2 linked regions of the Homo sapiens genome follow. The protein of the gene in region 1 purifies or fractionates together with the protein of each later gene. This does not show direct contact. Each region holds a gene or a part of one and is shown in the gene's direction. Other genes may lie near its edges.

Region 1 (3,820 bases):
TAGCCTCCTGAGTAGCTGTGACTGCAGACACAGTCCCCATGCCCAGCTAATTTTTTTCTTTTTCATAGGGACAGGGTCTTGCTATGTTGCCCAGGCTGGTCTCAAACTTCTGGCTTCAAGCATCCTCCTGCCTCATCCTCCCAAAGGGCTGGAATTATAGGCATGAGCTACCATATCTGGCCACAAGAATCTTTAAAGCTGCTTGTCTCTTTTATGACAGAGTCTCGCTCTGTGGCCAGGATGGAGTGCAGTGGCGCGATCTCGGCTCACTGCAACCTCCGCCTCCTGGGTTCAAGTGATTCTCCTTCCTCAGCCTCCCAAGTAGCTGGGACTACAGGTGCCCGCCACCGCGCCCAGCTAATTTTTCTATTTTTAGTAGAGACAGGGTTTCACCATGTTGACCAGGATGGTCCCGATCTCCTGACCTCGTGATCCGCACGCCTTGGCCTCCCAAAGTTTTGGGATTATAGGCATGAGCCACTGCGCCCAGCCAAAGCTAGATTTAGAAATCCATTATTTCACATAACTGGTCTCAGATAAACCAGTCTACATCACAATGTCTAAAATGAACAACACCTGTGACAGGTCAGCACAGACTAAGTAAGTGTATTAGTGTCAATTTATAGCTTAATTTCTCTCTCTTTTAAGATACAGACATTCCAATTATTTTCTTTCTGTATCCTTTGCGGATCATCTTGTACTTTGGAAACCACAATTTAACTGCCCAAGTCACTCATAAAAATAGCAAAAGTAGCTGGATGGTACAAAAGTAGGTCCCAGGGCTTCAAATTTGGTTGAATATTGACTCCAGTAGGCAGCCACCTACTACTGAGCAAACCTAACCCTCAGTTATGTCATTTGTAAAACAGCACTTAACAGTTTGGCCGACCTGCTAGGGCTGTTGTAGGGACAAAAGAAGATGGTGCGTGTACTGCTTTAAGCCTGGCACCTGGCACTCTGCTAACATTCAGCTCTCTGGGCTGGGCACTGTTAATGCTCCATTTCGTAACCTGCTGTCAACCTGCAGGTAAATCACTCTGACTCCAAGCAAACACCCTGAGGGTGGAGTCGGCCTGTTTGAGGTTTCTGTTTGCAAATCTTGATATATGAAGTGACAGTGGAGATTGTACAGTTTTTTCCTCGATTTGTCAGGATTTTTTTTTTTTTGACGGAGTTTAACTTCTTGTCTCCCAGGTAGGAAGTGCAGTGGCGTAATCTCGGCTCACTACAACCTCCACCTCCTGGGTTCAAGCGTTTCTCCTGCCTCAGCTTTCCGAGTAGCTGGGATTACAGGCGCCTGCCACCATGCCCTGCTGACTTTTGTATTTTTAGTAGAGACGGGGTTTCACCATGTTGGCCAGGCTGGTCTTGAACTCCTGACCGCAGGCGATTGGCCTGCCTCGGCCTCCCAAAGTGCTGAGATTACAGGCGTGAGCCACCACCCCCGGCCTCAGGAGCGTTCTGATAGTGCCTCGATGTGCTGCCTCCTATAAAGTGTTAGCAGCACAGATCACTTTTTGTAAAGGTACGTACTAATGACTTTTTTTTTATACTTCAGGAATAGTAAAGAAACACATCATAAAACCTCCCAGGACATAAAGGTGAGCACAGACCCTGTTTGGATCAAGTCAGTTCCTGGAGCCTGAATGATGACTGCTGAATCACGGGAAGCCACGGGTCTGTCCCCACAGGCTGCACAGGAGAAGGATGGTATCGTAATAGTGAAGGTGGAAGAGGAAGATGAGGAAGACCACATGTGGGGGCAGGATTCCACCCTACAGGACACGCCTCCTCCAGACCCAGAGATATTCCGCCAACGCTTCAGGCGCTTCTGTTACCAGAACACTTTTGGGCCCCGAGAGGCTCTCAGTCGGCTGAAGGAACTTTGTCATCAGTGGCTGCGGCCAGAAATAAACACCAAGGAACAGATCCTGGAGCTTCTGGTGCTAGAGCAGTTTCTTTCCATCCTGCCCAAGGAGCTCCAGGTCTGGCTGCAGGAATACCGCCCCGATAGTGGAGAGGAGGCCGTGACCCTTCTAGAAGACTTGGAGCTTGATTTATCAGGACAACAGGTAAAAAGAGGTGAAACCTATTATGTGTGAGCAGGGCACAGACGTTGAAACTGGAGCCAGGAGAAGTATTGGCAGGCTTTAGGTTATTAGGTGGTTACTCTGTCTTAAAAATGTTCTGGCTTTCTTCCTGCATCCACTGGCATACTCATGGTCTGTTTTTAAATATTTTAATTCCCATTTACAAAGTGATTTACCCACAAGCCCAACCTGTCTGTCTTCAGGTCCCAGGTCAAGTTCATGGACCTGAGATGCTCGCAAGGGGGATGGTGCCTCTGGATCCAGTTCAGGAGTCCTCGAGCTTTGACCTTCATCACGAGGCCACCCAGTCCCACTTCAAACATTCGTCTCGGAAACCCCGCCTCTTACAGTCACGAGGTAAGAAGCAAGGTTTCATTTAGGGGAAGGGAAATGATTCAGGACGAGAGTCTTTGTGCTGCTGAGTGCCTGTGATGAAGAAGCATGTTAGTCCTGGGCAACGTAGCGAGACCCCATCTCTACAAAAAATAGAAAAATTAGCCAGGTATAGTGGCGCACACCTGTGATTCCAGCTACGCAGGAGGCTGAGGTGGGAGGATTGCTTGAGCCCAGGAGGTTGAGGCTGCAGTGAGCTGTAATCATGCCACTACTCCAACCTGGGCAACACAGCAAGGACCCTGTCTCAAAAGCTACTTACAGAAAAGAATTAGGCTCGGCACGGTAGCTCACACCTGTAATCCCAGCACTTTGGGAGGCTGAGGCGGGCAGATCACTTGAGGTCAGGAGTTTGAGACCAGCCTGGCCAACATGGTGAAACCTTGTCTCTACTAAAAATATGAAAATTAGCCAGGCATGGTGGCACATTCCTGTAATCCCAGCTACTCGGGAGGCTGAGGCAGGAGAATCACTTGAACCCAGGAGGTGGAGGTTGCAGTAAGCCGAGATCGTACCACTGTGCTCTAGCCTTGGTGACAGAGCGAGACTGTCTTAAAAAAAAAAAAAAAAAAAAAAGAATTAATTAAAAATTTAAAAAAAAATGAAAAAAAGCTGCATGCTTGTTTTTTGTTTTTAGTTATTCTACATTGTTGTCATTATTACCAAATATTGGGGAAAATACAACTTACAGACCAATCTCAGGAGTTAAATGTTACTACGAAGGCAAATGAACTATGCGTAATGAACCTGGTAGGCATTATTTATTGAATTATCAGCATTCCAGATGTCCAGCACATTTTTAATAGGAAAGTATTGGGAACAGATGTCATTATTTTCAGCCTAGGTTTTAAAACATTTTAGTATGTCATGAATTATCTTCAAAAGGATCATAAATCTTTTTTAAAGGTCCATTTTATTTAAAATATATAAAAATAATCACTGCACTGCAGCCTGGGTGACAGAGAGTCTGTTTCCAAAAAAAAAAAAAAAAACTATAGCATCAGTCTTTTCTAGGTTATTTTCAGAAATTTCAAACAATGGGAAAAGAATGGAAGAACTTTTGAGGGGAGTTGAGGAACACGAAAAAAGATCAGTTCACAGTCATATAAATAAAAAGTCATGTTACTTGTTTTTTCTCTTTTGACGGAAATATGTAATACATTTATCCAGTTTTAAAATCAAAGTATGTGCTTAGAATGTAAAGACAAGGAATGCTAAAAGTACATTTATCACTTAATGGCAGGGATAAGTTATGGTAAGTGCAATGTTAAGTGATTTTGTTGTGCGAACATCATAAAGTATACTTATACAAACCTAGATGGTCTAGCCTTCTCCAC
Region 2 (3,820 bases), on another chromosome or scaffold:
AACTAAACCTATACAACCAGAAGTTATTATCAAGGATGCAAGGCTAATCTTACCAGCAGCTGAGTTAACAATTATGATTTCAGCTAAGGGATTTGCTGGAGAAAGAGAACCCCATACATAATCTTCTGTTGACCACAGGTAGATTCTCCTAGTCTGTTTTCAGCACTTCTCCCAGTGCCAAACAAGCTCCCTGGAGCTCATATAAAATGAGTTATTATATCTTTGCTTGGTGTTTCTTGGTTGGTAATGTAGTCAGGGAGAGCACAAATGCATTGTGTGAGGTTTACAAATTAATTCCAAATAGTTCTGGGGGTTTTATGGTGATGAATACCTCACTCAGCTAAAAGTTAGGGACTAAAGGTGTTAGAAACCATACTTAGTGACTTGGTGGGGTAAAGAGCATCCATCTCTGCGTATGGAGTTAGGGGCAGAATGTTAGCCTTTCCTGAGAAAATGCACCACATCTCTTCAGCTGTGGTGTGAACTTGATGCTGTGTCTTAACTTGGTATAATGATAGGGTGACTTTTAAAAGTCATGAAATTTTGGTTGCAGGTCCTAGTGTTTGAACAGAGTTGGGATGTGTGTGAAAGACAGAAAAGGGGGTCGTGAGTCAGAAGCACTTAGTGGGAGTACCTACACAGCTTGTTGTAATTTACTTGAGTGGCATATAAAAGTGGATATTTTCTCTGTTTTAATTTTTTAAGTATTTGTAGAATCAAAATTTTTACTCAAAAATAAATATGGAAAGGATAGTGGGTTGCTGTAAGCCACATACTTTTATGCGGTACCAGAGCTTGGTCTTTAGTAAGCATGATAACCAGTTAAATAGTTGTGGCTTATCACATTGATATTTCAGGTTTTCTTCCCCTCGGATCTCAGTCTGCGGATGCCTGGCATGAATTCAGAGGACTATGTTTTTGACAGTGTTTCTGGGTAATAGATGTCTTTTAATTTGATTTTTAATTTGCAGCTTTTATAACTTATTCCTTTCTTGTTAACTTGATAAATCAAAGGTGGCTTTAGCAGGCTTTCCCCTTATCTTACTACTTTTACTGTGGTACAGTCTTGGGTAGAGGACATCTGCTTCAGTGCTTTTAATTTTGAACTCTTTGAACTATGTTTCAAGTTTCCTTAATTCTTGGTGTTGGTGCTTTTTCTTTCTTTTGGATTCTTTATGTGATGGTAGTAGAATGGAATCTAATAGGAGAGATGAGGGGATTAAATTAGGTCTCTGAGGTCCTTTCTGTTGCCAAATATATATAATTAGGTGAGAATTTAGGAGTAATATCAAGTGATAAAAGCTTTTTTTTTTTAAAATCAGCCTCACTAATGATAAAATAAATGAAGTCAACTTTTTTCTGAGCTGACAACTTTCTTTTGACCTCACAAAATTGTATCTCACTCTGGGAGTATGAATATTTTCCAAGTTAATTAGGAACTCATATTTTGTTTTATGTGTTTTTTACATGTGTTATATTTTACAGTTTTAAAAGTGTCTAAGATTTTATGGGAATTGAGACTTCCCTTATAGATCTGCCTCAAGATGCAGGAGTCCCAAATGGAAATACCTTTAGGGTTTAGGATAGGGGTCAGCTAACTTTTTCTGTAAAGACTCAGAGAGTAAATATTTCAGGCTTTGTGGGCCATACAACCTCTGTATATTTTTGCAACTACCCCGGTCTGCCATTGTGCAAAAGCAGCCATAGGTAATGTGTAAACAAATGATGTGGCTATGTGCTAATAAAACTTTAGTTACAAAAATAGGTGTAATCTGCTGAGCCGTGGCCTGGGAAGGTTCTTAAACAACTTTAGGGGCATATATGAGTGGTAGTGTTAGGTAATAGGTAATGTCGAGAATTGTGGAGTGCCTGCCTATTAAAGACATTTAAATTACAAGTAGGAACAACAAAAAAATGCTATATAGGCCAAAAGGAATTTAGTCAGAGGAACACCAGCCACCTGTCTGAAACCTCTGCTGGATAAATATCAGATTGGCAGCATGTCTTGTGAGAAGTTCCTTCCAAAGTCCTTTCCACCTATCAGTATCTTTAATATCTCGAGCCCTCAAACTCAGGATGTCCGATTACTGACATCCATCACATCATAGAATTTTTAATCGGCAATTTGTACTTCCACCTCTGAGAGACTTGAGAATTTTTAGCTGCTGAGTACTTTTGTTTCAGATTTTCTTTAAGTGAAAAAGATAGCAAATGCTATTTATAATATGATGTATAGCAAGCTTCCACGAGAGTAGATTTAGAGACCTGTGACTTTTTTTGTCCTTTAGGAACAACTTTGAATATACCCTAGAAGCTTCAAAATCACTTCGACAGAAGCCAGGAGACAGTACCATGACGTACCTGAACAAAGGCCAGTTCTATCCCATCACCTTGAAGGAGGTGAGCAGCAGTGAAGGAATCCATCATCCCATCAGCAAAGTTCGAGTAAGTTCTGCTCTTAGTCCTGTTCTCTAGGAAAGCTAGTCAGAGCCTAACATTTCCAGGTCTGAAGCAGCTCTGAATGACCGCCTGAAATTGCAGCTTTAAGCCTTCACTGTAAAATATAGTACTAAATACGTTTTCCAAAACATACTCACCCTTTAGTGTCTTTATGTTGTAATGCATTCTCTTTCACAGAGTGTGATCATGGTGGTTTTTGCTGAAGACAAAAGCAGAGAAGATCAGTTAAGGCATTGGAAGTACTGGCACTCCCGGCAGCACACCGCTAAACAAAGATGCATTGACATAGGTAAGCAGCTCAAGAGCCCGCTTTTATTCCCAGAGGTGCAGCCATCCAGTTTTCTAAATCCAATTATTTTTGGCAGTGATCAGCTTCCTGCCGAAAGCATTTGAATTTTTATGCCAGCTACTGATCTGTTCCAAACACTGTCCTCGGCCTCCTGGAACCAGTGCTCTCACCATTGCTCCCATGCAGTAATGGGACATGTGCCCACGTGGTGGCTTTCCACAGGACACTAGGGCCAGAAGCCATGTAGCTGGCTAACCTGAGAATGTCCCCACTGTTCAGTCTGCAATTGCTTTAAGGGGTAATATCTTCTTTAAAAGATTCTGATTATTATTTGGAGATGATGGAGGTAGAGAAAAAAACAAGTAAAAGAAAGATATTGCTGCTGTGCAGTTGCCTAACAGTCTTCCCTAGTCACGTGCTAAACCGTGTAACTAACCTCTCTGTGGGCTGTAGTGGCAAACCTGTGCAAATCTGTATTTACTGAAGTAGCGTTACACAGACCTCTGTTCTTGCCATGTATGTAATTTTCATGTAAAACCATTGTCTGTATCACAGATGGCTGTTTAATATTAGTGTTACTTTTTTTCTTTACCTTTTGTAATGCTCTTGTTTCCTTTTCAGGAGAATGAGAACTCAGTTCTAATCTTGGTTCTACAGAGTAGTTTTGTGACCTTGGGACTGTTATTTAAACTTTTTAGACTTAAATTTCCTAATTGTGACATAATGAGATTGAATTAAATATGTCTAAGCTTGCCTCTATTACAAAAACTCTGTGATTCTTTTTCTTCGTATTTTGAACTTCTTCTAATCGAACAAAATGTTAATTTAAATTGTCCAGAGGTGATAATGCTAAAAACTAGATCTTATTTTGAACTGCTGGGATCCCATGTTGAAACTAAGACTCATGAGTTTTCATTTTCTCTTCCACCGCTTCCTGTAGCTGACTATAAAGAAAGCTTCAACACTATCAGTAACATCGAGGAGATTGCGTATAACGCCATTTCCTTCACATGGGACATCAACGATGAAGCAAAGGTGGGTGGTGAGGTCTGGGCGCCTTATGTCCAGCCA

The links.
Region 2: the proteins of ZKSCAN1 (region 1) and GRHL1 purify together in Homo sapiens (co-immunoprecipitation; one large-scale study listed by IntAct). This does not show direct contact.

Annotation. Positions count from the first base shown.
Region 1 is NC_000007.14:100,021,861-100,025,680, forward strand, and holds part of ZKSCAN1 (zinc finger protein with KRAB and SCAN domains 1), read left to right. Parts: intron 1-1,034; exon of another isoform or gene 1,035-1,194; intron 1,195-1,558; 5' UTR 1,559-1,646; coding exon 1,647-2,072; intron 2,073-2,293; coding exon 2,294-2,447; intron 2,448-3,820. UniProt on the Homo sapiens protein: May be involved in transcriptional regulation.
Region 2 is NC_000002.12:9,961,598-9,965,417, forward strand, and holds part of GRHL1 (grainyhead-like protein 1 homolog), read left to right. Parts: intron 1-857; coding exon 858-934; intron 935-2,288; coding exon 2,289-2,445; intron 2,446-2,637; coding exon 2,638-2,749; intron 2,750-3,689; coding exon 3,690-3,784; intron 3,785-3,820. UniProt on the Homo sapiens protein: Transcription factor involved in epithelial development. Binds directly to the consensus DNA sequence 5'-AACCGGTT-3'.